Regions from separate parts of the Homo sapiens genome. Here regions 1, 2 and 3 are each reported to be linked to region 4. The links are microRNA targets in miRTarBase. Many come from high-throughput screens and were not tested one by one. Region 4 holds a microRNA gene; each other region holds the end of a gene's coding sequence.
What was found. The annotated mature microRNA hsa-miR-190a-3p reads CUAUAUAUCAAACAUAUUCCU and lies in region 4 at 2,503-2,523, shown strand. An mRNA with a match to its seed (bases 2 to 7 or 8) in the 3' UTR can be bound and repressed. Matches are read on the target gene's strand: a 7mer-m8 pairs with bases 2 to 8, a 7mer-A1 pairs with bases 2 to 7 and ends in A, and an 8mer does both.

Region 1 (7,443 bases), not on the chromosome of region 4:
AAAGAAGTGACTGTTGGCTCACGTGTGCCTCAATGATCTTGCTATGGTTAGCCAACACTCCAGGCTGATGGGTGACTCAAACAGTTTGGGCAATTGAAAACAAAGTTCAATTTTTCTAGACATAGCAAATACTTTGAAATACTGGGTACTGTAGGGACTGAGTTCGGGAAAGTCCTGAATAAAGGAAACAAGGTTCATGAGTGAGTGGTAAGTAACATGATGTAGGAACTGTAGGGAATTATGGAAAATCTGACATCTTTTGGGTACCAGGCAAATCAGCATTTATTACTTTCAATAAACAGCTTTAACACTTTGAGAGGACTGCATCTCTGCAGATTCCATCTGGATCACAAAACAAAGACACAATTTGTTTTAAGGTCTTTGAAGACTGGACACACTAGAAGATGATTCCTCAATTTGAGGGGCAAAAGAATCCCCTACACAAAACTCTAGCCCAGTGCTTCTCAAACTTTAACATGCACACAAAACACCTAGGGATCTTGTTAAAATTCAGATTCTCATTCAGCAGAATTGGTGTAGGGCTTGGAATTTCGCATTCCTAACAAGTTCCCAGATGATGGCAATGCTGCTGGTCTAGTCAAAGTATTATTCAAAGTATGATTAGAACCTTCTATGGCAATTTGACATTGATGAGTGGACTTGTCTCAAACAGGGTACCAACTTTTTGCAATTCGTTTCTTTCCCCTTATGTTATGTTTATCTCGAAATGTAATTTTACATGTTAAATCTAATACATTTGGGCTTTTATTTTGCATATCTTTTTTCCATTTAACTTTCTTAGAAATTCATTTTTGTTGTGTTTTATAATAGTATTGGTCTGTGATGGATTGCAAAAACTATTGGTCCCTCACCACAGATAGTTTGAGAAACACTGCTCTAGATGATAAAGAACGTTTTATTTGGGACATAGATTTAATTAGAAATGGTTTGATTTCTAATACATATGATTCTAAAGCAGTATTTTAAACTTTTCTTTTTATTTATTTCATAAACAATAACAAAACTCAGCTAGGTAACATTATGACAGTTTCACCGTACATTCAGTCACAAATATTTGAAACCTTCGCAACAAGAACAACAAAACCAGAAGTGTTACAAGAATAATTTACAAGAAAATCTATAAAACAGCAAGAAGCTCACAAATGTTCATTTTTTTTGCACAAGATCACTACACTCTTTCACAACATGTTTTGTGTTACAAAATTTCCAACAAAAGTGTATTTTTTTTCTTTGTATTGTGGTTTCTAAAACCAGAAACTTTGAAGTAAATATCCTTTTATTAGCACCTAGTGGTGCAGAAAAAGGAAAACTCTCACATACAGACACTTCACAGCACTTTTCTAAGAAAAATATACACTTACAAAATATGTTACAAATTGGCACACTTAAAAATATACAAGATTTTGTAGACGTCTTAAGAGTGATCCTTAAGCTTTAAACTTCAATTGATTCTACAGATTATTTATAAAGCTTAACTCTAAAAGAAAAAAAAAGGCAAATAATTTCCTAACATTTTTAAGTTGCAGTGTCATATGTCAAACAGAAACTTAGGTTACATTCATAAAAAGGGCCTCTAACGCTTTTATTTTAAATTTTCTTAAATGCTTAAGGGGCTTGGGGAAGAAGAAAAAAATGGGAATAATCATTTTCTTTAGCACCATAAATCAGCAACTTACTAAAGAGGTGCATTCAGTTCTATGGAAACTAAGGACTAGTACATTCAAAACTCTGTAGGCAGCAAACTCCAGTCAGTGCTACAGGTAGCCCAGTAGAGCATCTTAAGATTTCTACTCTCCTCACTGGGAGTGAAAAACAAAAGGCCTCTTCTAGTTTTCATTCTAAGCCTTTTTTTGTGCTGTAAATAACCAGTCATCTCTCAAACAGGCAGAATGATTTCAATATCTCTTTTCTTCTTTTTGAAATGGGATGTCATTCTGAGACTCAGAAACCCCTGAGCTTGTTAGATGGACAGACATCCTTTCCATCTTATGTGGATGAGTGTTTCTTCAGTGTCTTTAGTATCAATTTACCCAGATACTGATTTTGAAAGCCTCATTCACACCATAAACTTTGTTCTAAACCTCTGTCTTTTACATTGTCCTTCTCCAATGCCTTACCTCTTAGTTACGATTCTGAAACCAAGAGTACATCTCAAGTATGTAGCTGCAATGGGAGCTCTGCTTCACGACTGTAGCTAGTGTTTAATGCTGAGTAAAAAATGTGCCTTAAAGGGTAGCCTGAGTCCTGTCATCAAAATAATCACATGCTGGCTGAGGACCCTCAAGCTGATGACAGTGTTTCCCAAGTTAAACAGCCCAACTAAAATTTTTTTCTCCCTTATTTGGGTCTTTGAGAAACCTTTACAAAATCCCTGGCCTACATTGTGTTGACAAGATTCCTGTTTGTTACTAAAAGTTTGATTTTGGTACTAAATCTTCTAAATGTAACTATAGGCTTAGTGAATTTTATGATTAGAAAACAAACCAACCTCACATTAGTTTTATTTTATAAAAAGAACATATTTCTGTAGTGATGGGCAGTCATTAAAAAAATCCCTAAATGAAAATGGTTACTCCTTAAATTAGATAATTTCTCAATAATAAAGGAGAAAATAAACATTTCTATTTCTAGCAATAGTTAGGACTAGCTAGTGCTCCATTCTCCTCTTCAGCATAAAAACTTAGCTCTCTTCAATTCTTGGAACTGTTCTGAGAGCATCTGTAAGCTGAAGACATGTTGGATCTACATCACACTGGTCCAGCTTGGTAATAGCAAGCATGGCTAAAAGGTCCTTGGATATGGTTTTTCTCCTTTAGGCAGTAAATGCTAATTGAAACCTACTAAAACAGAAATTCACTAGAACTGCAAAACCTCACATAGGACTTAGGATGCTTGCTAGAGTTGTTTATAGCTTTTGAAGCATCCTTTTGCCTCTCTCTTACACACACACACACTTCCCTCCGTAGCCCCCTCACACACGCAGATGCTTCCCAGCAAGGAAAAAGTTCAGAGAAGGTGAAAGTTGTCACAAAAGCCCAGCTAGCACCAAGGACTTCAGTGAGATGGCTGAAGAAGTGATGATCAAAGTAATGCAGGAGGTTTGAAAACATCAGGAAAAGGTAAGGCCTTGACACATAGTTGCAGAGTAACAAGAAGTCAGAAGGGAAAGCTGGGAGGAAGCAGCATATGTGAAGAAGCTGGTATAAGAGACCTTGGCGAGGCAGAAAGGATGGTCACTGGTTCAAGCCAGTTATCACAGCCCAAACATGACCCCCAAAGTCTCAATACCCTTCTCCATATAATATAGCACCTAACCAGGGCAGGAGATGAGACCTATTCTTAACAGATCTTCAGGGAAAAGGAATTTCTAAGTTTCCTCAGTCATGTGATATAATTTGTCCATGTGGGCACGAGTGTGTGTTTAAAATTATATTTGAGGGATGAAATACCACCTATTGGGTACAATGTACACTATTTCGGTGATGGGTACACTAAAAGCCCAGATTTCAACACTAAGCAATATATCCATGTAACACAACTGTCCTTGTACCCCTACTCTATAAAAATTAAAAAAAATTTAATTAAAAAATTAGATTTGAAAATAGCCAAAGCAATTAAAGGCAATTAAGAATGGGAAGGTTTCCTTCTGAACTTCCAGAAGAAAGCAGCCTAAGATTGTTGAGCCCTGACAATTTGGGCAGGTGGGATATGAGACCATAAAAGAAAAATTCTAAGACCAAGGTCTGAGATTAAGTAAGAAGAATAAGGGAGGTTACCATTTCCAGGAAAGTAAAGATTAAATGGGACTCTGTTAGGGAGGCATTAATAGGAAACAGCTTCTCAGAGGGGGAAGGTTAGAAGGGAGCGGTAATCAGGAATTTCAGACCAAGGATAATATATATTTCTGACTTGAGATACCAGTGATAGGGCAAAACACTATTTTTATACTCTACTAAGGCAGCTGGTTATGACAGGAAGAAAAAGAACTGTGAGAGCAGAGACAGGACCAACAAAATGCTAAATGATGAACATCTCAGAACACAATGTACTGAGAGGAATATTAAATGCAATTAAGAGAATAAACATCTTCTGCCTCGGCCTATTGCTCATTTCTCAAACTCTGTTTCTTTTTATGTTTCAGTACAAAGTGACTGGTTATGCGTCACTAATTTATATATTAAAAACATATAATACACTGCAGGCCAATTAAAAAGGTACTTTAAAATAACAATTCTCTTTGGAGAAAGGGATGAACTATGCCCTAGAATTGGCCCTTAATGGGCTCCATAGGAGCAACTGAAAGAATATCCATTCCAAAGGACTTATGATAGCAAGTTCTCACAAGGAAATTGTTTCCAACAGTTTCAGGCTGTCCTACCCCACTCACACCCCATTCTCCAAAGCTGAACTGATACCGAAAAAAAACTGGGACAACTGCTCCCATATTTACTTTTATAAAAACACATTGTATTAATGGAACATTTTCTTTATTTTTTCATTAATTGCCACCTTTTCATTACATAGAAAGCACTCCACTCCTCTAAGCCAGCAGGTGACTCTGAGGTCTGGAGTCTTGGGGATCACAATACAGGCAGAGTTGGTGATTCCAAGCCAAAATTCAGCTGCAAAACAGAAAAATCAAAAACAAAAACAAAAACAAAACAAAGACCAGTTTCTAGGGACTGGCCATAGCATTTAGTACAGCTAGCTATCAGAATAGAGAAATAGAAGAAGGTTTTCCAGTTTGGTTATTTTCCCTTTTGAATGGTAGCTATGGGGCAGGAGACATGTTTCATCTGGTGCCTTTCCACTAAGTAATTTTCCAGGGCTCACTGCAAACAGAGCATTAAAGCCTAGGAATGGGCCTGTACCAGCCTCACAGAATGCTCCTCACCCACTCATCCCCACAGACACAAGAGACTGACGCTGGGAACACACATGATCAAGAACACAGGCTTGTTCATTTTACGACCCAGCTGTAAGGAATAGAGCAGGCTGGTGAAAGGAATCATGGACCGGGAAGTGTATATACTTATATACATGACAGGCTTCCTTCCATTTCTCTCTGACTACTTTCAAATGTTGCTTCTCTGTTTGTGAATACATTTAGGTGGCATTGACTAGGTAGGTTCATATTTTGCTTAAAATTTTCCTTTTGAAACATCTTCCCTTTTTTTGTTAAATCCCCTTTTTCCCTTCCCACTTATTCTCCACCCTCCCACCCCAGCCTATATATTCACAAGTTAATAGGTTAGTAACAATATTAATAAGAATAGTAACAACGACAACAACTAACAATATTAATAATATTAATCCCCTATATCTGTATAGCACTTTATGATCTACAAAGCGCTCTCACATCCATTATCTCATCTGTGCCATAATGCATCAGTCATCAGATGCACAGGCCTTCAATTGTGCAAAGAAAAGAGATCAAATGTTAGAAGTCAAGTGGTGAATAAAAGGGAAGAAAAAGTAGTAGTGAGGAATGTTGGGGCTGTGAAATTTTTTTTAAAAAGTAGGGGGAGTACTGAATAAAAAATGTGATTTAAAAATTTGTACTTAAAATTGAGATTTAAGTTTAGTGTGTGGCATCAAATATTGGTTATCCTCAGACTAAGGGTATATGGCCCAAATCAGTTGTTGCCACAAATTGTTCATCTTATCTGATAGTAAATGTACTTTACTCATAAGAAGAAAAATTTGGTTGAACTGGGATGCCTTAACATTTTCTTTAAATGACATTGGCATTGCAAGATTAAACACTGAAAGAACACTAAAGCCATGATATGAGTGCACTTTTGACAAAACTGGAATAAAACATTTAGGAAACTATTTAAATAAAAGCATTCTATATACTTCATTTATCATTAGTGTTGATTTTATAGCTATTTTTATAATTTATCCCAGACTATTATAAAATATATAAAACTGAGATATAAAGTATCAGCAATATAACTTTGCACTTTAAATAATTTTCAGCTACAGATTTTGCTTTTAGAAAACAAACTTTGAAAGCAGCTGTTTTGTTTCCTTGTAAAACGTTCTGTAAATGCATATACTTGGGTCCCTGATGGACTTAGCTGTTGTGGCCTTCAGACTTTTCCAAAATTTTAACCCTTACACAATGGAACAAGAAAATCTTTATTTTGCCTTGTTTAGCTGTTCATGTTTCCACACAGGACAGTAGAGTCTAAAACTTTAAAAGAACGTGTGTGTGTGTATATATATATATACATATATATACACACACACACACACACACAAACATATACATATATATGTTTGGGTGTGTATATATCCATTTAAAAATAATTAATGAGCTTTAAACTGTGGGTGAATCTGTGAGATGAGGTAAGAAAATTTGGCACATTTCAAACAGTATCCTTTAATTTTGGTAAATTGTGTAACACAACATATTTTTCCACCATGATCTACAGGTGCTATCCACATAAGTGGGGGTGGTTAATAGCAAGAATCACTGGAATGTTTCTAGTAAATTAACAGGGACAACTTCCCCAAATACAACCAAATGTTGATATAGAAGTAAAAATATATACAGTACAGTCACTTGTTTGTAGTTTGGCACAATGTTTTCAATTTTTTCCTTGTGGGTAAATAGTGCATAAACTACTTGTGCAACTGTATGACTTTTTAAGTCTTTTACATAGAACATGAGATTAAAGTTTGCTCCAAAGACGTATTCCCACAATTTAAAATTCTTTTCTTTAAGCACTTACATGTCAACATACATACCACAAGGCATATTTTGAAAGAAATAAAACACAAACATCAAATGTCTTTCTGGAAAATGCGAGTCTCTTCTTCAAACACAGGTAAAACCCAAAAGGTTGTTTCTGCTTTTAGGAGATTGTAGTCGGAATCCCTGCAGAAAAATCAAACAATTTATGCCATCTGAGTTAGTTTTAGTGTATGTCCCACAAAGGGATCATACAAGCTAAATTTGTTAACATCATACTAGATGCCGTATGATGTAGAAAAAGATACAAATAGCATGGGGCACTAGAAAGCCCTCCTATTTGCCACATGTTCAGATTTTGTTTTCCAGCTAATGCTCTTTTGTTTAAATGATCTTGGCTTTTTGTCTACATGACTTTTAAATTCTATTTTTCAAAATCTGTCTTACTGCAAAGCCTTTCACTTCCAAAAATCATTCAAGAGCATATTTTAATTCTATTTTCTTAATATGTAGTAACTAGTGATGAATAGCAGAAGAAGAAATAGCTTTGTTAGAGCTTATCCCTAGCCAAGCCACAACAAAATTGCCCAATCTTTTGGGTGGCTTAAAGGTATAGGGATTTTCATGCACTTTAAAATTTTCTTTTTACTTTGAAAAAGAAGGGAATGGGACAGTTTCTTTCATGCAAATTTTTGCTTTCAAGAGGGAAAAAATGAGGGACT
Region 2 (7,483 bases), not on the chromosome of region 4:
GAACCTCACTCTGAAGTGGAAGACAGGAAAATCAAACATACTTGTGCAAGTTCAAGCACCTTCTCACCTATGGGTAGGCAACAATGATTCATATAGACACGGGACGGTGGTTCAAATAAATGAGCTGAGGTGACAACAGAAGCATCATCAGGGCCCTAATTCATTTATTGGCTAATTGCTCTTCCTTGCTTTGGTCTTTAACAATGTACGTGCACATATCTGGTCATTGGTCATTGGTGTTTACTGTTTATACGTTAGTCAGCCCCTCTCCAGCTTTCTGCATTTTTAGCTCCCACTCACGTCTTCTTCTGCTGACATCCTCTGGTCATAATCACTGCTCTAATGTCTCATTTGCTGAATTATATCGCAGCGGTTCAGTTGGAGTGGTGCCTTTGGAACCCCCGGATCCCCCTTTGTCTCACCCACCCCGCTCTCTTCTTCCAATTGTTTTTTCCCCTCTGCTGCCTGCACACCACTTCGGCTGATGATGGCCATAAAGCAAGTTGCCATCTCTGTACCACTTTACACAGAGGCCATCAGACAGTCACGGTGCTTTACCCCTTCATCTTTCAGGTACATACTTCACTCATGAAGCCAAAGGAGCCGATGACGCAGCAGACGCAGACACAGCTATAATCAATGCAGAAGGAGGACAGAACAACTCCGAAGAAAAGAAAGAGTACTTCATCTAGATCAGCCTTTTTGTTTCAATGAGGTGTCCAACTGGCCCTATTTAGATGATAAAGAGACAGTGATATTGGAACTTGCGAGAAATTCGTGTGTTTTTTTATGAATGGGTGGAAAGGTGTGAGACTGGGAAGGCTTGGGATTTGCTGTGTAAAAAAAAAAAAAATGTTCTTTGGAAAGTACACTCTGCTGTTTGACACCTCTTTTTTCGTTTGTTTGTTTGTTTAATTTTTATTTCTTCCTACCAAGTCAAACTTGGATACTTGGATTTAGTTTCAGTAGATTGCAGAAAATTCTGTGCCTTGTTTTTTGTTTGTTTGTTGCGTTCCTTTCTTTTCCCCCTTTGTGCACATTTATTTCCTCCCTCTACCCCAATTTCGGATTTTTTCCAAAATCTCCCATTTTGGAATTTGCCTGCTGGGATTCCTTAGACTCTTTTCCTTCCCTTTTCTGTTCTAGTTTTTTACTTTTGTTTATTTTTATGGTAACTGCTTTCTGTTCCAAATTCAGTTTCATAAAAGGAGAACCAGCACAGCTTAGATTTCATAGTTCAGAATTTAGTGTATCCATAATGCATTCTTCTCTGTTGTCGTAAAGATTTGGGTGAACAAACAATGAAAACTCTTTGCTGCTGCCCATGTTTCAAATACTTAGAGCAGTGAAGACTAGAAAATTAGACTGTGATTCAGAAAATGTTCTGTTTGCTGTGGAACTACATTACTGTACAGGGTTATCTGCAAGTGAGGTGTGTCACAATGAGATTGAATTTCACTGTCTTTAATTCTGTATCTGTAGACGGCTCAGTATAGATACCCTACGCTGTCCAGAAAGGTTTGGGGCAGAAAGGACTCCTCCTTTTTCCATGCCCTAAACAGACCTGACAGGTGAGGTCTGTTCCTTTTATATAAGTGGACAAATTTTGAGTTGCCACAGGAGGGGAAGTAGGGAGGGGGGAAATACAGTTCTGCTCTGGTTGTTTCTGTTCCAAATGATTCCATCCACCTTTCCCAATCGGCCTTACTTCTCACTAATTTGTAGGAAAAAGCAAGTTCGTCTGTTGTGCGAATGACTGAATGGGACAGAGTTGATTTTTTTTTTTTTTTCCTTTGTGCTTAGTTAGGAAGGCAGTAGGATGTGGCCTGCATGTACTGTATATTACAGATATTTGTCATGCTGGGATTTCCAACTCGAATCTGTGTGAAACTTTCATTCCTTCAGATTTGGCTTGACAAAGGCAGGAGGTACAAAAGAAGGGCTGGTATTGTTCTCACACTGGTCTGCTGTCGCTCTCAGTTCTCGATAGGTCAGAGCAGAGGTGGAAAAACAGCATGTACGGATTTTCAGTTACTTAATCAAAACTCAAATGTGAGTGTTTTTATCTTTTTACCTTTCATACACTAGCCTTGGCCTCTTTCCTCAGCCTTAAGAACCATCTGCCAAAAATTACTGATCCTCGCATGATGGCAGCCATAGTGCATAGCTACTAAAATCAGTGACCTTGAACATATCTTAGATGGGGAGCCTCGGGAAAAGGTAGAGGAGTCACGTTACCATTTACATGTTTTAAAGAAAGAAGTGTGGGGATTTTCACTGAAACGTCTAGGAAATCTAGAAGTAGTCCTGAAGGACAGAAACTAAACTCTTACCATATGTTTGGTAAGACTCCAGACTCCAGCTAACAGTCCCTATGGAAAGATGGCATCAAAAAAGATAGATCTATATATATATATAAATATATATTCTATTACATTTTCAGTGAGTAATTTTGGATTTTGCAAGGTGCATTTTTACTATTGTTACATTATGTGGAAAACTTATGCTGATTTATTTAAGGGGGAAAAAGTGTCAACTCTTTGTTATTTGAAAACATGTTTATTTTTCTTGTCTTTATTTTAACCTTTGATAGAACCATTGCAATATGGGGGCCTTTTGGGAACGGACTGGTATGTAAAAGAAAATCCATTATCGAGCAGCATTTTATTTACCCCTCCCCTATCCCTAGGCACTTAACCAAGACAAAAAGCCACAATGAACATCCCTTTTTCAATGAATTTTATAATCTGCAGCTCTATTCCGAGCCCTTAGCACCCATTCCGACCATAGTATAATCATATCAAAGGGTGAGAATCATTTAGCATGTTGTTGAAAGGTTTTTTTTCAGTTGTTCTTTTTAGAAAAAAAGAAAAACAAAAACAAAAACAAAAAAAAAAAATCACACCATTGCTCACAGAATTGGCATCTCATTTTTGGGACCTCCCATCTTTCTGTTTTGAAAAGTGTACAGTAGTGCAGTGTTCCTGATGTAACTTTATGGCTTACAATGTTGACATGTCTCAGGTTCATGTGTTGCGATTGGTGTTTTCCGTCTCAGGTAGATTGCAAAGTGTAGGCCCCACACATTGGAAAAAATAATAATAAAACAAAGCAAAAACAGGAAATTATGGATTTTAGTTGTATATTGGTTTATGTATTTTTTCTTAAGTATACAGTGCACTGTTTGAAATGTATTGTTGAGTATTACTTTGTACAGGTTGATCACTTTTTTTAGAGTGAAGAAAGAACAAACTTGTTTTTTGTGTTTTTTAAAGGAATATAAAATAATGAAGGATGTATAATTGATGCCAAATAAGCTTGTTCTTTAGTCACACCGACGTCTTATTTTTCCCTTTAGGCCAGTTCTGTTTTTAAGGTGTACATGGACAATGTTACAGTGTAAGAAACTCCATATCCATATGTTCCCATTCGCATTTTGTATTGGTTCATGTATACCATTTTTACAAAAAAAAAAAGAAAAAAAAGAAGTACTATAAAATATCTGTCTTCTTAATAAAAAAAAATTAATGTTACAAAGTGATCCTTTAATCTCTTTATGGACTTCTTATGGACGCCTCCGAGTGAGAGAAGAGATGGGCCTCTGGTCCCAGCTTCCTCCTTAGGACCATGTACGGGGCCAGGAACGCTGGCAGTAGATGCTAGGACATGCTGCCGGCTGGGTTGCTGGGGGCCGCGCTCTCTCTCCTTCTCCGCTCATCCTTCCTGTCCTTGTTCTCTTCCCCACTCTCAGTGGACAGGTGAGCCAAGTGCTGTGCCGTGGCTGAGTCTGGGCTCCCACGTGGACTCAGCGATTTGTGCAGGTGTGCGAGCTGTCGTGGCGGGCCCGCCGGAACAGGCCGCTCCCGTAGATGTGTCTTCCGCACTCATCCCCTCTCTCACCGCCCCCCCACCCTCACCAACTTCCCTGTGTTGGCTGCTCCACCTGTCTCTTACTTTGGGAGTTTGTGTCTTAACAATTCATTCTGCCTTCTTCCTTGAAAGTTCTCTCTCCTTTCATAAAAAGAAGACGTGAGCTGTGGAGGACTGGCTTGGCTGCCTGCAGAAGATTGTTCTCACTTGCTGTTTAGGTTGCTGAGACTTCCAGGCCTGGGTAGACAGCAGGATTTGCTCTGTTGTCATCGTCCTTGCCTTGCAGGCTGAAGTGAGCAATGACTACACTTCATGGTGGCCGATCTTATAAATGTGCAGATAACGTCTGGCCAGGCCCAAAGTGCCCTTTTCCCACCATCCCCTCAGCTGTGGTTGATGAGTTCCCCTTTTCTCCCTTGGCCACGTCATGGGGAAAGTTCCATAGGAAAAGCAAAGGTAAGCTCCAGAAAGACTGAAGGCTGTGCATCTCCCCTTGAGCCACTTCCATCCTGGCCTGGTCTCTTACCTGTCTCTGTTAAAAAAAAAAAAAAAAAAAAAAAAAAAAAAAAATCAGATATGCAGTTATTGAGCACCTGCTGTATGTCCAGCATGGTGAGGGATGCAGAGAAGTATAAGGCGGTCTCTGGAGGCCAAGTAGAGCATCAGTTACATCACCTGAAAACTTGAAGTGACCCTGAGCCATGGGTGCCCCACTGAACACAGAGAAGCCCAGAGAGTGCTATGAGAATTTTCTGGAGAAGGGTAATCAGTGAAGGCTGGTGAGTCCCTAGACAGCTTCACAAAGAGCTGGGACCCCAGCTGGATCTTAAAGGATGGTTTCGTGGAGAAGGAATGTGAGTCAAAAGTACAGAGGGCAACAAGCCCAGCCAGCCTGCTGATTTGTATGGGGAGAAGAAAGCAATTCCGTGTGCAGGGTGGGATGGGTCTTGTGGCTGTACTGAAAAGTCCGGGCAGAGGACTCGATACTTCAGTGACCTCTCCCAGCCTCTGCCAGAGGGCAAGGAGCAGTAGGGAGTACTCATTCATTGCATCTCTATAAAAAGACCCAGAGAGATAGAATAAGGATCAAAAGCACACACTAGAGAGAGGCTGCCTGCATTCAGATCCCTGTCCCACCATGTAGCAGTGAAACCTCGGGTGAGTAGCCCAGCCTACCTGGCTTCAGTCTCTTGCTCTGCAAGGTGGACATCACCATAGCCTCGAAGGTTGTTAGGAAAGATCAGTGAGATATGCAGTCAGCGCTCAGCCAAAAAGGTGCCAGACACACACTACTTGTTCATTACATGTCAGTCACAGGATAGAGGCAAATGGTGACTAAAACGATAGAAGGTTACCCAGGGCTACGAAGAAGCGGTCACTACTCAGAGGGAGCTCTGAGGGCTCCTCTGCATATAGACACATCATGCCCTTGCAAACCACGACTTAGAAGGTTTAATGACCCTTTTCTCTTCACCATTCATTAGCAGACTTATTCCAAGCCACGTGGCATGCAGTATGTTTAGTCTCCCCACCCCTCTCCCTCTTGTCTGCAGCATGAGGCTCCAGCTTTAGCTGTACCCTACAGAAAAAAGTCCCAGAAGTTCCTTGAGCTGAGGCAGACAGGAGGTGGTGACTGCTGTACATTTGCCTTTTGAGCTCCACAGGGTATGCAAATGAGAAGGTGCTAGAAGCCGTCCCCGCTCAAAGGATCTTGATAAGTTGCCCACTCCTTCATTTGAGAAGAGTGCGTACGAGAGTGAAAATGGCCCTCGTTTCCCCCAGAGAGTTTTCACAAATGTTTTGGCCTGGCATTCTCCAAATACATCAACTGGAACCCTGAGGTGATATGCGGGTGTTAATTGGTGCAATCTTTCACTGTCCTCTGTCTACCTGAAATGTAATTCTTTTACCGCTGTGGACTTGCTCCATGGAGAAATGCTCCTTTGATTCTGTCATCAAGAACCTCAAAGAAACCATGTGGCCACTGTGTTACAGGTAGAAAGACCCTGCTTAAGTGAAGGTATTTTTGTTTTATTATAAAATCATGCCCAAGATTAATACACCTTTTTGCCAGGATCCCAAATACGCAGCCCTTTGTCATGAAGAACTGGCAGCCACATTCCTTCAGGGTGAAATTTGTATTCACAGCCATACATGTATAGTTTTTGAAGCGCTGGCCCCCCGTACAGGAGAAGAAAGAAGGGACTCTTGGCTCATCCATGACCTTGTAGGTCAATACCATATTAAAGTTCCTGTCAGGCACGCAGTAGTCACCCAGCAAGTATCAGCTGATTAAAGGGAGAAGAGTCGAGCACCTGGCTGACTGAGCCTTACGTTACACTTAATCTGAATGGGCCACCGATGCTGTATTTCAAACCTTGATGTTTGCATGTCCATCCTTACTACAGGTGGCTTTCAGGTTGGCCGTGAAGGGACAAGCCAGCCAGTCCTGAGTTTAGAGCGATTGGCCCTATCATTCTCAAGGACCCACTGGAATAGTATCAGGGAATATCATTTTGGGTAATGGCCAAGCAAAGCCTTAGTATTGCTATCATATATTGTGAGGGGCCTTCAGAATGCAATATGGCCTCTTTTAAAAATGCAAACTATAGTCCTTGCCTTATCTGTGTTTATCTCAAAATGTTGAAATGTGCCTCTAATAGGAACTGCAGGATTCAGTCCCCCCCCACCACCCCCCACCCAACACTCACATCATTACACATGAGCATCCCTGAACTGAGACCTGAAAGCAAGAATCTTCTCTGTTTTCAGGTGTTCCAAACCTCAGCTTCCAGCCTCTTCAGTACACAGGAAACTTTGTTTCATTTTTATGTTTTTATTTATTTTTTTCATTCCCAAAAAACATAAAATGTCTACTGCCCCTGGTGGTCAGTGCTGGGAAATACAACTCGAGCCTTGCCTATTGAAATGCAGAATGTATTCCAACAAGGAACCTGACATTGTCTACTGCTTTTTCTCTCACACACATGCACACCTACCTGCGCCTCCCATTTTACTCCCTCCTAATCCTTCGAAGTGTTGATCTGGGGAAGGTGAGAACCACTACTGAGGGGCAAATCAACCGGTTCTCTGGGCCCGGGACTTCAGCTGCCCTCCAGACGTGCACAGGCTCACAGTCATATTTCAGACGTGACCGCCTCAAATCTTCCTTAAGTGCTATCTTCTCAGGTTAATTAATCACCAGGCTTAAACTTGCTGTTACCAGCAGGAAGTCCATCCTGAAGTCAGCAATGTTACGATTGCATCTTCTAATACTGTTTATCCTGCATTAGTGTTTACTTAGGGGGAAAATTGATCCGTAATTGATATTTCAGTCTTCCAGAGCTGGTGTTGGAAGAGCCTAATGCAGGCCTTTAATAGCAAGCAAATATTTAAATCCCTTAATGGTTGCTGAATATTGAAATGTGTGACTTTATTACTCTTTTTGGTTTGTTTTCTCTGTAGTTGTGTATTTCATCGTTTAAACCTGCAATGGATGCTGGCAAGTGCAAGTCTAGCTAATCCACAAAAGCTGTTTGCCCAGACACAGCAGACCTGATTAAAAAGTATTGCTATGGAAGGGAATCTTCTGCACTAATCAGTCTCTGTTAGC
Region 3 (7,492 bases), not on the chromosome of region 4:
AGGAAAGGGACGAAGGAAAGCTACCTGACAGCCTGTCATGTGCAGGTTTCACTCTCCCTCAGTCTCCTTCACTCAACTCTGTGGGCTTTTACTGGACATTCTCCCTGATCTGCATCTCTGCCTCCAAATGGGTGCCCTTCACACTTGTGCCCAGCCACCTACAGCTTGTTGCTTTCCAGCTTTGTCCCTGCTGTCCTCTTGGGATCAGCCTGCAAGCCATCTGCTCACATTAAGTAAGGCAGGCCTTCAGTGAGCCTTCGATGCAGCTGTCGCCCTTCCCTGGCATTGGAGATGTCTGTCTCCTTGAGTAGGATCTCCTGCCCTGTCACTCCAACTACAGTAACATCTGCCTTGTTTCTGCAGCCCTGTGGCCTTTGCCATTGCCTTCTCCTTTCATCACATACATAAGTTAGGAACACTTGCCATTCTGTTGTTGAACCATATTCTCCCACCTCCTGTCACTCATACTCACTCACTGCAATGCTGTCTTCCCTTTGACTTCACTGAAATTTCTCCTTTGATTTCTCCTTTCTTCTCTGTAACTAGAACTTCCAGTTTTACTTTCATCCCTTCCTACTTTTTTTTTTTTTTTTTTTTTGAGACGGAGTCACACTCTGTCACCCAGACTGGAGTGCAGTGGCACAATTTCAGTTCACTGCAACCTCTACCTCCCAGGTTTCAGCAGTTCTTCTGCCTCAGCCTCTCTAGTAGCTGGGACCACACACACCCAGCTAATTTTGTATTTTTAGTAGAGATGGGGTTTCACCATGTTGGCCAGGCTGGTCTGAAACTCCTGACCTCAGGTGATCCACTCGCCTCGGCCTCCCTACGTGCTGGGATTACAGGCGTGAGCCACCACGCCCAGCCCCTTCCTAGCTTTCTGATGGTCATGTTTTTAGTCTGTCTCCTTAGATCTGCCCACTAAGTTGTTTTATAAAATCTGAACCTTAACAGATAAATCCACTGCATAAGTTTACTGTATCCCTCCTGGCCTCCACAGGTCTGAGTTTCTGAGACCCCCTAAACCACTGACTGAAGCATGTCCTCCATTGCACAGCATTGGAGGCCTTCCAGCCTGTGCTGCTTCTGCAGCTTCCTACAAACCCATACCTAGGTAGATGTGTCAGCCTTTACAGGTGTTCACTCGGGACTCCCTTTGACTTGCCCAACCATTGACGAGTTTTAAGTAGGAGTTAGATTTAAAAAGACATATGAATGTTTTACTCTGTACATTCATAGAAGAGAGTAACCACCTTGTTTTTGCAACCTAGGTACCTTGTGGGTCAACGACTCGTGAACTACGAACGGAAATCTGGCAAACAAGGCTCATCTCCACCACCTCCACAGTCATCCCAAGAATAAAGTAGTTGTCTCAACAACTTGACCTTCCCCTTTACATGTCCTTTTTTGTGGACTTCTCTCTTTGGAGATTTTTCCCAGTGATCTCTCAGCGTTGTTTTTAAGTTAAATGTATTTGACTTGTGTTCTCAGCATTCAGAGAGCAGCGGTGTAAGATTCTGCTGTTCTCCCTGGATCTTCTGACATTACTGCTGTCTGAGATTTGTATATGTGTAAATACAAGTTCCTTGATACCCTAAAACCTTGGATTAAACAGAATGTGCATTGTACATCTTTAAACAAAATGTATATTAATTTATTAAATCTAGTTGTCACTTTATTTTGGACCTGCTGTGATCTCGACAGGAAACGTGCCACAGAGCAGTAGTGCGCAGGCAAGACTTTTCAGTGACGCCTTGTGGAACGCAGTTCATGATGTCCTAGCAGCTCTCACTAAGGGAACTGTACATTCTTTCTTTCTTGGCTATTCAGACCTTACCAAGAACGTTAAAGGAAACAAGTAGAAATCAGCAGTGGAGTGTCTGTGGTAAGAAAACATGAACTTTATGCTTCACTGTTAGTTGTTTGTGGAAGTTATTTTGTATAACACCAAAGCTGTTGTACATTTCCTACTGCCTGATTTTTTTCATGTGTCTGTGTTTGTAATATTGTATAGTATCTTGTGCTAGGTGAGGAAATTATTTTTAATTTTGATAATTTAATATTCCTAGTGTGATCAGCATTGGGAGTTGGGTTTCAGTGGGGCATGTCTATACTTAGAGAAAAAAAGTCCAAATGAAGATTTTCATGAGTCAGCCCCCCCGCCCGCCCCCACCCCACACCCACATCCTCTCTTTTCCACACACAACTATCTGTTTATTTTTTGTAGCAGTGGCCGAAAGTCCTGCAAGGTCATAAATCTTTCAGAGTGACATCACCAACTGTACTGCATCTTACTGGATTTAGGACTTCTGAGATGCTTGTGAAGTATAGATGTGGTTGTGGTCTTAGATTGACAGCATTAGAGAAGACTGGTTAGAACATCTGGTCTCGCTGGTTAGTGCCTCGTTGGCTGAGGACTAGGTGTGCATTTCTCCTAGCTTTTCATCAGGAAATCCCAAAGTTTCCAAAGCTTTTTGTTTACAGAATAAAACTTCAAATAAAACCAATTCATTATTTGTCCAGAAGGAAGCTTGGCTGAGCTGGCCTTTTAACATAGGAATGTATTTCGTTGGAAACATTCTGAAAAATCTCAGAGAACTGAACCCTTACAAACTTTGTTTTCCCTCATAACCAAAGCTTCAGGTTAGAAGTTTAGAAAAATAGAATGGTTGGGTACATGATCTAAATGTTTAATGCTAAAGGTATATCGTAAGGGTAGTGTTTGTTTTTGAACGATAATTTAGAAGTTCTCATAGAAAGCGTATAACATAGGTCTTCAGAAACTATAAAAGAATTTTCATATAGTATTAAAATCCATAGACTAAAATCTGAGAATTTTTTAACATATGCAAGTCAGCCAAACATAAGCTACCAAAATAAAGAGCAATGTGTTCTGGCTGTTTTATACTTCAACAATTTTTTCCCTAAGTGGTAAGCAATTACTTTAAAACATATTTTTAAAAACATCGGTATCGGGAGCTGCGGTGGCTCCGGCCGGTTGTCCTGGCACACAAGGAGGCGAGGCTATGCGTTCGAGGCCAACCTAGGCAAAATTGGAAAAAAAAAAAAAAATCAGTATCAGAAATAATGCTTGACATAGGATTCAGTGTTATACTCTTTGGCACTTTAGAGCAGCCTTTTCTCTCATTTGAAATAAGGTCTTTGTTAGCCCTACCTTTACTCAGAAATTTAGTCCTACTATAAAAAATTAGGATTTTAAAATATAATGCTGCCTGTCATAGTGTATTTCTAAATTGCTCTCTTTGGGAGAAAAACATTATTATTGAATTGAGCATATAACTATATAACTATATAACTATATATATATATATATATATATATATATATATATATATATATATATATATATATATATTTTTTTTTTTTTTTTTTTTTTTTTTTTTTTGCCCCCGAGACAGAGTCTTACTCTGTTGCCCAGGCTGGAGTGCAGTGGCACGATCCTGGTTCACTGCACCCTCTGCCTCCCAGGTTCAAGCGATTCTCCTGCCTCAGCCTCCCAAGTAGCTGGTACTACAGGTGCGTGCCACCACACCTGGCTTATTTTAGTTATTTTAGTAGAGATAGGGTTTCACCATGTTGGCCAGGCTGGTCTCGGAACTCCTGACTGCAGGTGATCCGTCCTCCTTGGGCTCCCAAAGTGCTGGGATTATAGGTGTGAGCCCCCACGCCTGGCCAACTTGATTATATTAATTTTGGGTTTTTTGTTTTGTTTTGTTTTGTTTTTTAATTTTTCAAAGAATTTGTGGATCTTGGTATAAAGTCATTGGAACATATCTGTTTTAACAGCAAGAGATCCTAGGCAGATACTTCAAAAGGTTAAAAATTCTTAATCCTACAGAATTTTAAATGAATCTTATCAATGTTTTGTAAACAAACAATATGAATGGCCAAAAAATTGCCCTCCATTTTACTGGCAGGTAATTTATATTGTCTTACTTAAGAATTCTCCCCTAGTTTTTCAATTGTACTTTATCGTGTTGTTTTCAATGAGATAAGTATTTTCATAGGGAAAGCATTTTCCAGCATAATATTTGCTTGGGTAGCATCCGGGTTTTAGTATTTAACCAAGAGCCTTTTAAATATTGAAAACCCATAGTTCAGAAAATGTTAGTATTGCTGCCCTTCTTCACATAAATTTTTTTTTAAATTATACTATTATTTTGCTTAATTTTATATTGGGTTAAAACAACCTTCAAGAAGGTTAACTAGGAAAGAAGACCTTTTTGTTTTATTTTTACTATTTATATATAGAAGACAAATCAGCATTTGGTGATAGTTTTACATGACCAGTTATCAAACGGTCATAGTATGAAGTGTGCAGTTGTTCATTATTAGTAAATTATGTTTGATTTTTAAACTATTTAGTACTAATAGTTGAGATGAAAACTGAAGAAAAATGCCAATGTGACGTTTGTGTATAGCTAGCCTTAAAAAACTTCCCATGTTTTTAGGTGACTTTTTTCCCCCTCTTAGTACTCTGGAGAAACAATGAAGATGGGCCATCTCAATTCCAGATGTAAACAAAAAGTAATTTTTATTTCAACATTTAATGTAACTGCTATTATTGTGGATTCTTGTCTTGTGTATTTTCTTTCCCTTATTCAAGTAATATAGAATAACTTTCCTTAAAATGATTTGATCCAAGATACGTCATTTCTGTATTGGCAAAATGCCACTATTAAAGTGTAATTCTTGAATTTAGGTTGAATTGATGACTTTTTAAAACAAAACAAACACTGGACAGTTCTACATTGTATTGCGTTTGCGAATGTGCGTGAACACACGCACACGTGCAGGAGAATGTAGTGCCATAAGAACACTGGCGCTTTTTAAAACTTTCCAAGCTAGCTACTTATTTTCATTTTCAGGGTTGAGTACTCTAAGCTCTCTACTTACTGTGAGAAGTTTTCTACATTGTAAAATTAAAAGATTATATTTAAAATACTTCTTTAGGATGTTATTCAGCCATCAAAAAAAAACCCAACTAAAATGTCTTACCAGTAAAGTATTATTAAAAGCCTCATTTGTGGAGATTCGCTGACTTCCTTGGTTAAGCTGTCTTGTATTTACTTAATTTGTCCCCTCAACCAGGTGTTTTCTTTTCAGCCTGTTACTGTCCTGTGCCATTTTTAAAAATAGCCATCATGAGTAAGGGCTTCTTTAAAATAATCCCTGACAATATCTTTGGCATTAATACGACATAAAGACAAGACAGTATATGTATGTTTTCATTCCTGTTTTGTACGAGTGCCTCATTTTGTAGTCATGAAAGTAACATAGTACCTTAAATAAAAATGTAATGACTAATCTAAGGTCTAGGAATAACTATTGTAGAAGCTAAGTAGAACACTTAGTTTGGGGTGTCAATTTTCTATCAACGCAAACACCTTAGGGTACCCAGACCAATTTTATGTATATATATTCTGAAATGCTCCCTTTTTAATGTGGTCATTTGTTGCCTTCTAAGTTGAGAGGACAAAACTGAATAAAGTGAATGTTAATTGTAGTCTAGTTTTTTTGTTTGTTTTTGTGTTATTGCAAGATTGCTTTAAGATTGCAGAAATATGCATTATTAGCCAGCATAGATAATCCAGATGTTATAATAGGAAGGAAAAACAACTCCAGTTAAATGTGACTGTGGCGACTCCCTTTTATGTATACATTTAAATGCATAGTTGCAGAGGACACATCCCTCCCCTTCTGTCTCCCTAACTTGAACTGTAGACCGTCCTCACTGGGAAGAGTAAGGCCCCACATTTTGTGCAATAGCAAGCTACTGCCCACTTCTGCATGTCTGCTACGAGATCAGAAAGTCAGTTTCACTAAGGTTGTCTTTTAGCTGAATACTTAGAGTAAAACCAATCAAATCCATTGTACATACCTGACCATATGTCCCAGATAAAAAGGAAAGACTTGCGTGATGTTTTTTTCCTTCTGAGTGCCCTGAGGAGATCCTTTTGCTTCAGACTATTTCTAATTTTTCTTTGTTTATAGGTTCAGAATTTTTTCCATGATTGTTTTCCCCCAAACAAGTGCATTTTTAATTACTTTAAATGCAGGGGTGATAGAGGAAATGCTATTCGAACCATAGACATCTTTAATCTGTGAAGCTGAAATTTTTCAGCAAAGGAAATTGCATGGTCAAGTTCAGAAACTGGCCATTAATTTCCCCCTTCCGCTCCACAGTTCATAGCTACTCTTGTTGCAAACATGTAGTGATAAGGAGAACTAACGTATCAAGGGGCTGAGAGGGTAACGTTCCCCTCCTCCTCCATGTTTTTATTTTGGTGTCTGTTTTGTTTCTAGCACTGTATTTAGTACTGTAGTTGAATGAGGTATGATGTCTCCCTTCAAGGAACTCAGAATGGAACAGAAGCATGAGCAAAAGATTGTATTACAGAGGTATGAATAAAATGCCATGGGGAACACAGAGAAAGGTTCACCCGGGAGAGATGGCCTAGCCACTTCCTTAGTGACTGTTTGGTATATGTAGGTCCCCCTGCCATTACTCTTTCAGCCTTCTGCAATCTAGTTCTACTTAGTCACACACTTCTCTAAGACCACTCATACGTAAACACTACGTAGAGGCCCCTTTTTGCCTCATTTTACATTGTTTAGTTATCATTTTGAAACTTTTCTTCACATATGTAACAGTGCCGGAGTTTTTCTGCTTCTCTGTGTTTGTTCAGTAACTCTTCTTTAGGATACACCTAAAGATGAGAAGCTTCATACCCAGTACTCCTCTTCATTCACTCATATGTTTTTGGGATCAGTCCCTTCTGCTGGCTGTGCATTGGTCTAATGGAACAGAATAGAGTCCAGAAATAACCCAACATGTATGTGGACAACTGGTTTTTGACAGAGGTGCAAAGGTCTTGAAAAAATGATGCTGGAATAATTGGGCATCAGATGCAAAATTAAAAACAAATTGATCCATATCTTAACACTGGCAAAGATTAAAGTCCAAATGGATTATAGTTCCCCAAAACTGTATAATTTCTAGAAGACAACAAGGAAAACGTGTTCAGCCTTGGGTTAGGAAAAGATTTCTTAAATCCAACACCAAAAGCACAATCCATGAAGGAAAAATCGATAAATTGTACTTTATCAAAATTGAGAACTTCTCTTTGAAAGGTACCATAAGGAGAACAAAAAGACAAGCTGTAGAGTGGCAGAAAAATATTTGCAAAACATTTCTGATAAATGAGTTGCATCTAGATTACATAAAGAAGTCTCAAAACTGAACAAGTAAACCCATTGTTTACTTAATCGCTGTTTCTCCTGAGCTTGCTGCCTCTGCCCCTGCTCTCTCTCCTTTTCCATTTGTTTTCAACATTGAATCCAGAATGTTCTTCTTGAGATCCAAGTCAGATCACACCAACCCTCAGAACTCTCCAATAGACGACCATGGCACTCAAAAGTCCACAATAGCCTTCAATGCTGGGCAAAACATGAAGCACCCCTTTTCTCC
Region 4 (7,492 bases):
GGGCCCTGAAACAGAGCAGACCACTCAAAAGCAGTGCCTGGGCCAGTGTAGTGTATGAAATAAACACAGACTGAGTCTGTTCAGCTTGGGAACATTATTAAAACCTTCGAGTGCTTAGAACCAACCTCCTAATAGTCGCTCTGGACTTGGTAAAGGCACTTAAACGTTTTCTCATCAAGATGTAACTTAAGGATTTGGGCTTCTGATTGTGGGGTTTACCAGGGCTCTCTCTGCTGGACTCTACCTGGGAGTCTTGGGTTGCCTGATATTGTCAGAGTAAGAGCCAAGTGTGGGTGTTGGGACAACTCCATTTTCTGGTTACGCCTTTGTTTCTGCTTTGTCAGTCAAGTTAATCGTGAATGAAAAGTGTACTTTAAACTTAAGAGTCAACCATTAACTAAGATTTAGAGGTTTGGTGCATGATGTTTTTCCATTTCCTTGTCTGATTTATCACGATGGCCTTTCTTGGGGAGGGCTCTGTCCGCTAATGCCGAAGCCATGTCAGTTGACACATTCGTTCTCCTGGAGAATTAGCCTGGTGCTAATTTAACATTAACACTTCACCATATTCTAAGAGCTCCTGTTTCAATGTCTTTCCCTTTGTCCTTCCGCAGGGTCCTTCTGAGCTCTTGTCTGAGTCCTGGTTTCCCCGTGTCTGGTCGTTCACTTCACGACTCCAGATGGGAAAACAAAATTATTAAAGTTCCTACCCCATAGGATTATTGTTATAATAATTAAATAAGATAGTATAAGAACACTGCCTGACATACAGTGAGACTTGGTAGATAGTAACTATATCACCATTATTATCACCATCATCACTGAAAATGTGTGTCTGGGACTTACTCCCTAGGAAATGCCTGAAATAAAAATTATTCCACTGGCCCCTGAAGAAAGAAAACCAGGAAGCTCGCGTTGTTCAGCTGCCAAGCCTGTGCCAGGCAGTCTTCTGGGTACTTTATGGGAGTCACTCATCTGATCCTTGGAAAAAGTCCATTAGAATCAGAAGCACCAAGAGGCGAATTACCTTGCCAGGGTCCGACCACTGTCACTCAGCTGGGAGGGCTATGTATGGCCCTGGGTGGCAGTTTCAGTCCATACCAGCCCCTGTTTCCCACCCCATTGTCAGAGAAGGCTTGTCTAGTCCCACAAAGGCCATTTGTAGTTTATGTGTGCCCTTAGAGCTACTCCTCGAAGGAATATTATGCAGCTATAATATTATGCAGCTATGAAAAATAATGGTTGCTAGGACTGTGTAGCACGAAGAAAATGCTCATGGTATAACAGAAAGGATGCAGAATTATGTACTTATTATGATTACAACTCTAAAAACTCACAGATGAAGAAAATAAGTAGGGAATGTACAAGAATGATGATGGAATTGGGATGATGGAAGGGTCTGTGTTTTAACATTTTATAAAACAAAGGTTTAAAAAATAACAGCACCTTAAAAATTAATGACTGCTGAAGTAGGCCTGTGAGGACTCCCTACAGTACTCTAGGATCATATAGCCTTTGTGTTTACATTGAGGGTTTTTACAGGAAAGCCAAGGAGTCCTTCGGCCAAGGTCAAGGTTAACATAACTGATGATGTGAATCCTTTGTTTGAGGGTTCCTACCTTAGCTCACTCCCATCGTATTAGGAAGGGTGATGGGTACTTCTAGAATGCTTCACAATGGTCTGAAGTCTTTCTCTGCCTGATGGCCAGAGGTGGATATTATCTATGAAACTGTTTTGGAAAACCTGCAACCCAAACCATAGTTTTTGTGCCTAATAGGGCACATTGCAATAACTTTTGCATGAAATATCTTCCTTGCCTTTATAAAGGAATTTATTTCCCCAATTAAAAAACAATAACAACAATCTGCACCAAAATCAGCCAGTCTTTTGAGTTGAATCACTTCTCTCCATTCTCTCCCAAAACCTTAAAAAAATCCTCAGGGTACTGTCAGTAAACAATTGCTTATTACATCCCTATAACCCTACCCTGGTACACACACATGCCTTCAGTATAAAATGGATGTGTGTTCCTTCTGGGGAGTATTCACACTGCTTTCAGGAAGAGTTTGGGGAGAGACAGTAATTTTGTCTAAAATGCTCTGCTCACCACCGTCTCAGGTTGCCTGTTTTTAAAGGAGAATGGCTCATGGTCTTTGATGATGATTCTGGTACATTTCCACCTCAGGCTCTTAAAACTTAAGCATCACTTTTTGCCTGGGATCTCCCAGACATGCACCGTTGAATCTGCTGTTCACCTGGGGAGATGAGAATGTCAGTGAGCGCTGGTGCATGTGCTGACAGTATTGTTAATGGCGCCGTTTCCACATCTGCAGGCAGACTTGTGCTCCAAAGACAGTTATCGGAGTTGCTGCAAAAGTGACCACCCCCTGCAGCCGTAACCTTCAATACTGTGCCTAGTCTCGAGCTCAGTCAAACCTGGATGCCTTTTCTGCAGGCCTCTGTGTGATATGTTTGATATATTAGGTTGTTATTTAATCCAACTATATATCAAACATATTCCTACAGTGTCTTGCCCTGTCTCCGGGGGTTCCTAATAAAGTTTATAAGGCAACAGGAAAGAACACGTTAAAATCACAAGTAGATTTAGAAGATGGAGCACTCATTACAATTCATGTTATCTTCCATTTCTTCTTATAGCATTTGAGACCTGTATCAGTATTACTGGATTACTTGCTTATTATAGAAACAATAAGTGTTGATGTTTCATAAGAGCCTGGGGTATTCTGTGTGGCTTAGTTTTGTGCAGTGATGAATCCTTAAGGAATTCAATATGCTTGGTGGAAAAAACGGTTCCAACCCATGTCTGTGACACAGAATAAAGGTCAGGATTATAGCCTCAAACACATCTAGATTCATGTTTCATTTTGGTTCATTTTTATCCTGATCTTCAATTTAGAAGTTCATGTCAGGGTTTCAGCAAAAATTCAAGGAGCACAGATCAGTTTTCTATGACTTCCCTTTCCACTCACAGTAACAGAATGTATAAAGCAAATCCTCCATACCAGCTGCATGGATACTGAGTCAGTGAGCTTTGTACAAACCTTGGATATAGGACTAAATATATCTCATGAAGGTAATATAATGTTGACTGAACTCTTGAATTTCCTGTTATAGGTTAACTTGTCAGTGGAGGTTGGTAATATTTAGAATAAGCCAACAATCGGAAAGTAATATCATAGCCTAATTGACTGTGGCAGGAAGTTTGGGATTATGATATAGAAAACATTTTTTCTGGTACATAACAGCCTTCTTTGGTTGGTTTTGACCTCTTCCTTATAGAAAAGCCTGTGAAGTATGTGTGAGTTCATTCTGAGTTCTCTCAACAAACAAAATACTTTGTGAGCACTGCTTTCTGGAAAGAGAACTACTGTTCTCAATGTTTTGGAGGAGAAAAGGTGTAAGCAAATGGTTTAAACAGGTAGTCATGAAAGCTTCCCCTTACTGTGTCTAGAAGTCATTGCCACATTGCTTACAGGTGAATGCATAGTGACAGGGTCACCAACAGCAACATCAGAGAGGTGATGACACAGGAGAGGGTCCTGTAATGTTGGAGTCCTGGCTTCTGGAGTTACATAATGGATCCTGTCTCTGGAATCCTTCTCCATTGAGAAGCGATCTGTGTGTGTTGGCAGGTGCTCTGTCAGGCGGGTTTCAAGATGCTGCCCCAATCAGTCCCTCCTTCACACAGCTAGAGAACACCGGCTTTGGTTTTGAGTCCAGTTACATTGTTTGACTGAAATGGCAAATGGCCATGGAAAAGAGACAGCAAGTTATTACGAACAAAGAAAAACATGGTTTCAAAAGGACCTGCAGACGAAGCCCAGTTGTTTGAATTGATGTGATTTTCTTGTTTCTTTGGGTGACTTTGTCACTGACCAGCATGTTCTCTGTAGTGATTAATATGGTGAAGGGAAAAAGGAACCAACTGTTCAGGAAGGAGGAGGACAAATACAGCATTTTCTGTATGGCTGCACTTGGGCTTTGAGTGGCACTCATTGGTTCCAGACCAGGAGCATACAGGGTGTGAAAAGCAAGTATGGGGCCGGGCATGGTGGCTCACACCTGTAATCCCAGCAGTTTGGGAGGCCAAGGTGGGCGGATCATTTGAGGTCAGGAGTTCGAGACCAGCCTGACCAACAGCTGGGTTTCACCCAGTCTCTACTAAAAATACAATATATATATAAATATAAATATATATAAAAATATATTTTTATATATATTAAATATAATTATAATTATATATTATATAATATATTATATATTATAATATATATTATATATTATATTATAATATATATTATAATATATAATATATATAAATATATTATATATATATATATTTATATATATATATAATAAGTCAGGCATGGTGGTGCACGCCTGTAGTCCCAGCTACTCAGGAGGCTGAGAATCGATTGAACTTGGGAGGCGGAGGTTGCCGTGAGCCGGGATCGTGCCACTGCACTCCAGCCTGGGTGACAGAGTGAGACTCGGTCTCAAAAACATAAATAAATAAGAAAAGCAAGTATGGGAGACTCCCCTCCAGGGTAGACCAGTAGGTCCTTGTCAGATCCTTCACAGACACAGAAAGGGGGCTTAAGATGTAGGGAGTTTATCTGATACAGCTTGGGAAGAACCCTGTTATCTTTTGTCTGTGCTTTCTATATCGACATTCAAGGGCCCCTTAAACAGAAATAGTGATTAAAAGATTATTTCAGTGGCGTTGCTTTCCATTTTGAACACAAAAGTAAAGCAATGGATACTATGGGAAAACTACTCCCAAGATACTAATCATGCAGGTGCGGACCTTTTCCAGCAGACACTGCATGAACTCGCGCGTATTCCTCGGATGCGGAGGGTGTGGTCCCTCCCCAGTCACAGGCACAGCCATTTGGCAGTTTCTCTGCCACCCATTTTGCCTGTTTAAGGTCTCTCTGGAGCTTTCCCTGAGACAAGGCCAGCTGTCCATGCCTGGCTCTTAGCAGTTCCAGTTGTTCTGGGAGGTGTACCTTTTGTTTGAACTAATAAAGGTGGCAGTCCTGAAGCCACCCCATCCATGGGTCCTCCAGAGGAGAAGCTGATCTAACCTTTGCACAGTTTGGGGCTTTGCATACAGGCTAAGGCCTCCCTCAAGGCACCTCTCAGTTCAATACCAGAAGCAAACTAGTAGCAGCCAAACTTGCAACAACAAAAAAAAAAGAGAAATGTGGCTGCCTGCTCCACTCCGGCTTCCAACTGGCAGGAAAATGCCTCACTCCTGTTGTGGGAGTTCTAGACACTGGCCTCCTTTTTTCCCTCAAGGACATTTAAATTAAATGCAAAATGTTCACACTTTAAAAAATATATATCCAAGAGGGTTTTTTTAAAGTTTCTGATGCACTATGACCTTATTTTTAGTAGCAGGCATTCTGCAAGACTCTGAGTAACACAGAGCAAAGCCTGAGACCCCACTGGAAAGATGACACGGGTGGTTCTTCAGTTTGTGGAGCCAGTTGTGAGAAGGGCGACCATTGTGTTTTTAGCTCTCAACAAAGCATTCCCTCAAAGTAAGTTTTCAGGGAGGGAGGCAAGCCCTTTGGCCATCTCCTATGCATGCCTTATGCTCCTTCACCTTCAAGTTCATTGGCGGAAGGAGCTGTGGGGTTGCAGGGCATAAGAAAAGGCCAAGAAAAAGACCATGGGAGGACATTCTCTTCCCCTGCCCAACACTTGCCCAGGACCTGACAAGGACAGTGAGCAGGGGAAGTGGGTAAGGACGTTGAGGAGGAGCGGGGGCAGTGGGGGATGTTGGTAAGGATATTGAGGAGGAGGTCAAGAGAAATCAGAAGAGAAAAGGTAGTTCCTGCTTATTTTAGTCACCGCCTTCTAAGAGAAGTTTAATTTGGAACTGTCCATGTCTAGGCAAAAGGACCAGGAAGGTTGAGTTGCTCCTCCAGTGACAGAAAACTGAGTAACTGATACCTGGAGAAAGGGCAGCGAAGACTCCACAGTCACATAGTCAAAGTACAGAACAGTGACTACCACCCGGATTGTCCCACTCCTGGTTGGGTGCTGAGAGAGGAGCTGGTGCCCATCTATGCTGTTTGGTACCTGACGCTTACTGATTTGTGGGTTTTACTTATAATGAATTTAGGCTGTAATCAGAAATAGCAAGAAGAATTTTTATTGGAATTATGGATACATAACAGGGTTTAGACAGAGAAACAGATTAATTTAGCCCCAAACCTGAAAAAAACAATTTTTGATAATGAAATTGCTAATAGTTTTTGAGCATCTCCTATGAGTCAGCCATGCTTTACATATACTAATCACGTGCTTGTAATGACTCCATCAGATAGGTTAGGAGGGGAAGTAGGCTTAGAAGATGAATGAATTAGTGTGAAGACCATGTTCTCAGAATCCATGAAAGGCCAAATGTCAAAAGAAACATGAGGAAAGGCTGTCCCTTTTACCTTCTCCACTTTCCACACCACTTCCCCTACCACCACCATTTCCTCTTCCAGGGGACATATAGCTACTGAAACTTTAAACCCATCAGAGCAACATAAAGGGGTCCCAAATACTCTCCCAACTGGGAAACAGGGGAAGGGAGCCAACCCAATATATAGCCTTTCCCAAGAGGGATCTCACCAGACCACTGACTTTTTAAAGGGTGAGCAAGGAAGGTCAGCATGCAGGGAAGAGGTCAACTACAGGGTACTCAGACCTTTCTAGAAGCTACCAAAAAGCCCAGGTAGGGATAAATCTGTCCTCAGCAAGAGTTGGCCAGACAGCCCAGGAAAGACGATTGCTTAGAGCTGATGGGCACCTGGCCAAATAGCCTTTTCAAATGAAGGGGAAGGGGGAAAAGAACAGTATATCAAAGGAGAAGTTAATTCAGCATGCAGAGGCAGCAACAAACACCTTCATTAGGCAGAGTAGAAGCTTAGTTTGTACATCTGTTCACTCTTTTTCCCAGTGCTGTCTTGTTACATAAGAGTGCCTCTTGGTAAAATGCCACTGTGTTTACATTTGTATGTCCATGCATGACTAAATGTCACAAACTGTGAATTCCAGTTGAAGGCTGCAAGTAGAGTGTACAATTAACAACTCAAGGCCTCAAACAGGGCAGGAACTTGCTCATAGCTGTGTATGCATCTGTCCACCAGGGCTCAGGAGTGGATGCTAATGATGTGGATGCTTACTCTGTGTATTTCTCCTTCTCCTACCTTGTGCGTTGTGCTCTGGCTGAACTCTGGAACTTGGGAAATGCATTTTGAATGGATATATTCATTCAGCAAATGTTGATCATCACATGGGCTCCTCTGCCTGATTTTGTGCTAGAGAAACATAGGTTGAATAAAACACAGTCTCACCCTGGAGGGGATCACAGGCTGGTAGGTTTAAGTTAAATGGTGTTTGTTTTCCTGAGTCCAGGCCAGCATTTCCTACAGAGTAGTGTGTAACCACCTCTGTAAGAAATACAGATTC

Region 1: the mRNA of NEXMIF is a reported target of hsa-miR-190a-3p. Seed matches in the 3' UTR shown: 7mer-m8 at 6,316-6,322, 7mer-m8 at 6,298-6,304, 7mer-m8 at 6,260-6,266, 7mer-m8 at 6,250-6,256, 7mer-m8 at 6,248-6,254, 7mer-m8 at 6,246-6,252 and 5 more.
Region 2: miRTarBase lists CADM1 as a target of hsa-miR-190a-3p. Seed matches in the 3' UTR shown: 7mer-A1 at 1,589-1,595, 7mer-m8 at 2,406-2,412, 7mer-m8 at 2,408-2,414, 7mer-m8 at 2,410-2,416, 8mer at 2,412-2,419 and 7mer-m8 at 2,420-2,426.
Region 3: the mRNA of MARCHF6 is a reported target of hsa-miR-190a-3p. Seed matches in the 3' UTR shown: 7mer-A1 at 3,302-3,308, 7mer-A1 at 3,310-3,316, 7mer-m8 at 3,319-3,325, 7mer-m8 at 3,321-3,327, 7mer-m8 at 3,323-3,329, 7mer-m8 at 3,325-3,331 and 24 more.

What each region holds. Positions count from the first base shown.
Region 1 is chrX:74,732,592-74,740,034 of GRCh38, forward strand. NEXMIF (neurite extension and migration factor) reads right to left here. Exons shown (of 4, transcript NM_001008537.3): 4 at 265-6,907. The coding sequence ends at 6,814. Among named protein-coding and RNA genes, the nearest start is that of RLIM, 120 kb to the left of the region's middle.
Region 2 is chr11:115,169,683-115,177,165 of GRCh38, reverse strand. It overlaps CADM1 (cell adhesion molecule 1), which reads left to right. Exons shown (of 12, transcript NM_001301043.2): 12 at 574-7,483. The coding sequence ends at 692. Among named protein-coding and RNA genes, the nearest start is that of CADM1-AS1, 220 kb to the left of the region's middle.
Region 3 is chr5:10,432,323-10,439,814 of GRCh38, forward strand. It overlaps MARCHF6 (membrane associated ring-CH-type finger 6), which reads left to right. Exons shown (of 26, transcript NM_005885.4): 26 at 1,272-7,492. The coding sequence ends at 1,362. Among named protein-coding and RNA genes, the nearest start is that of ROPN1L-AS1, 5.8 kb to the right of the region's middle.
Region 4 is chr15:62,821,506-62,828,997 of GRCh38, forward strand. MIR190A (microRNA 190a) reads left to right here and starts at 2,452; the gene lies at 2,452-2,536. All of the region lies in intron 54 of TLN2 (talin 2), which reads left to right.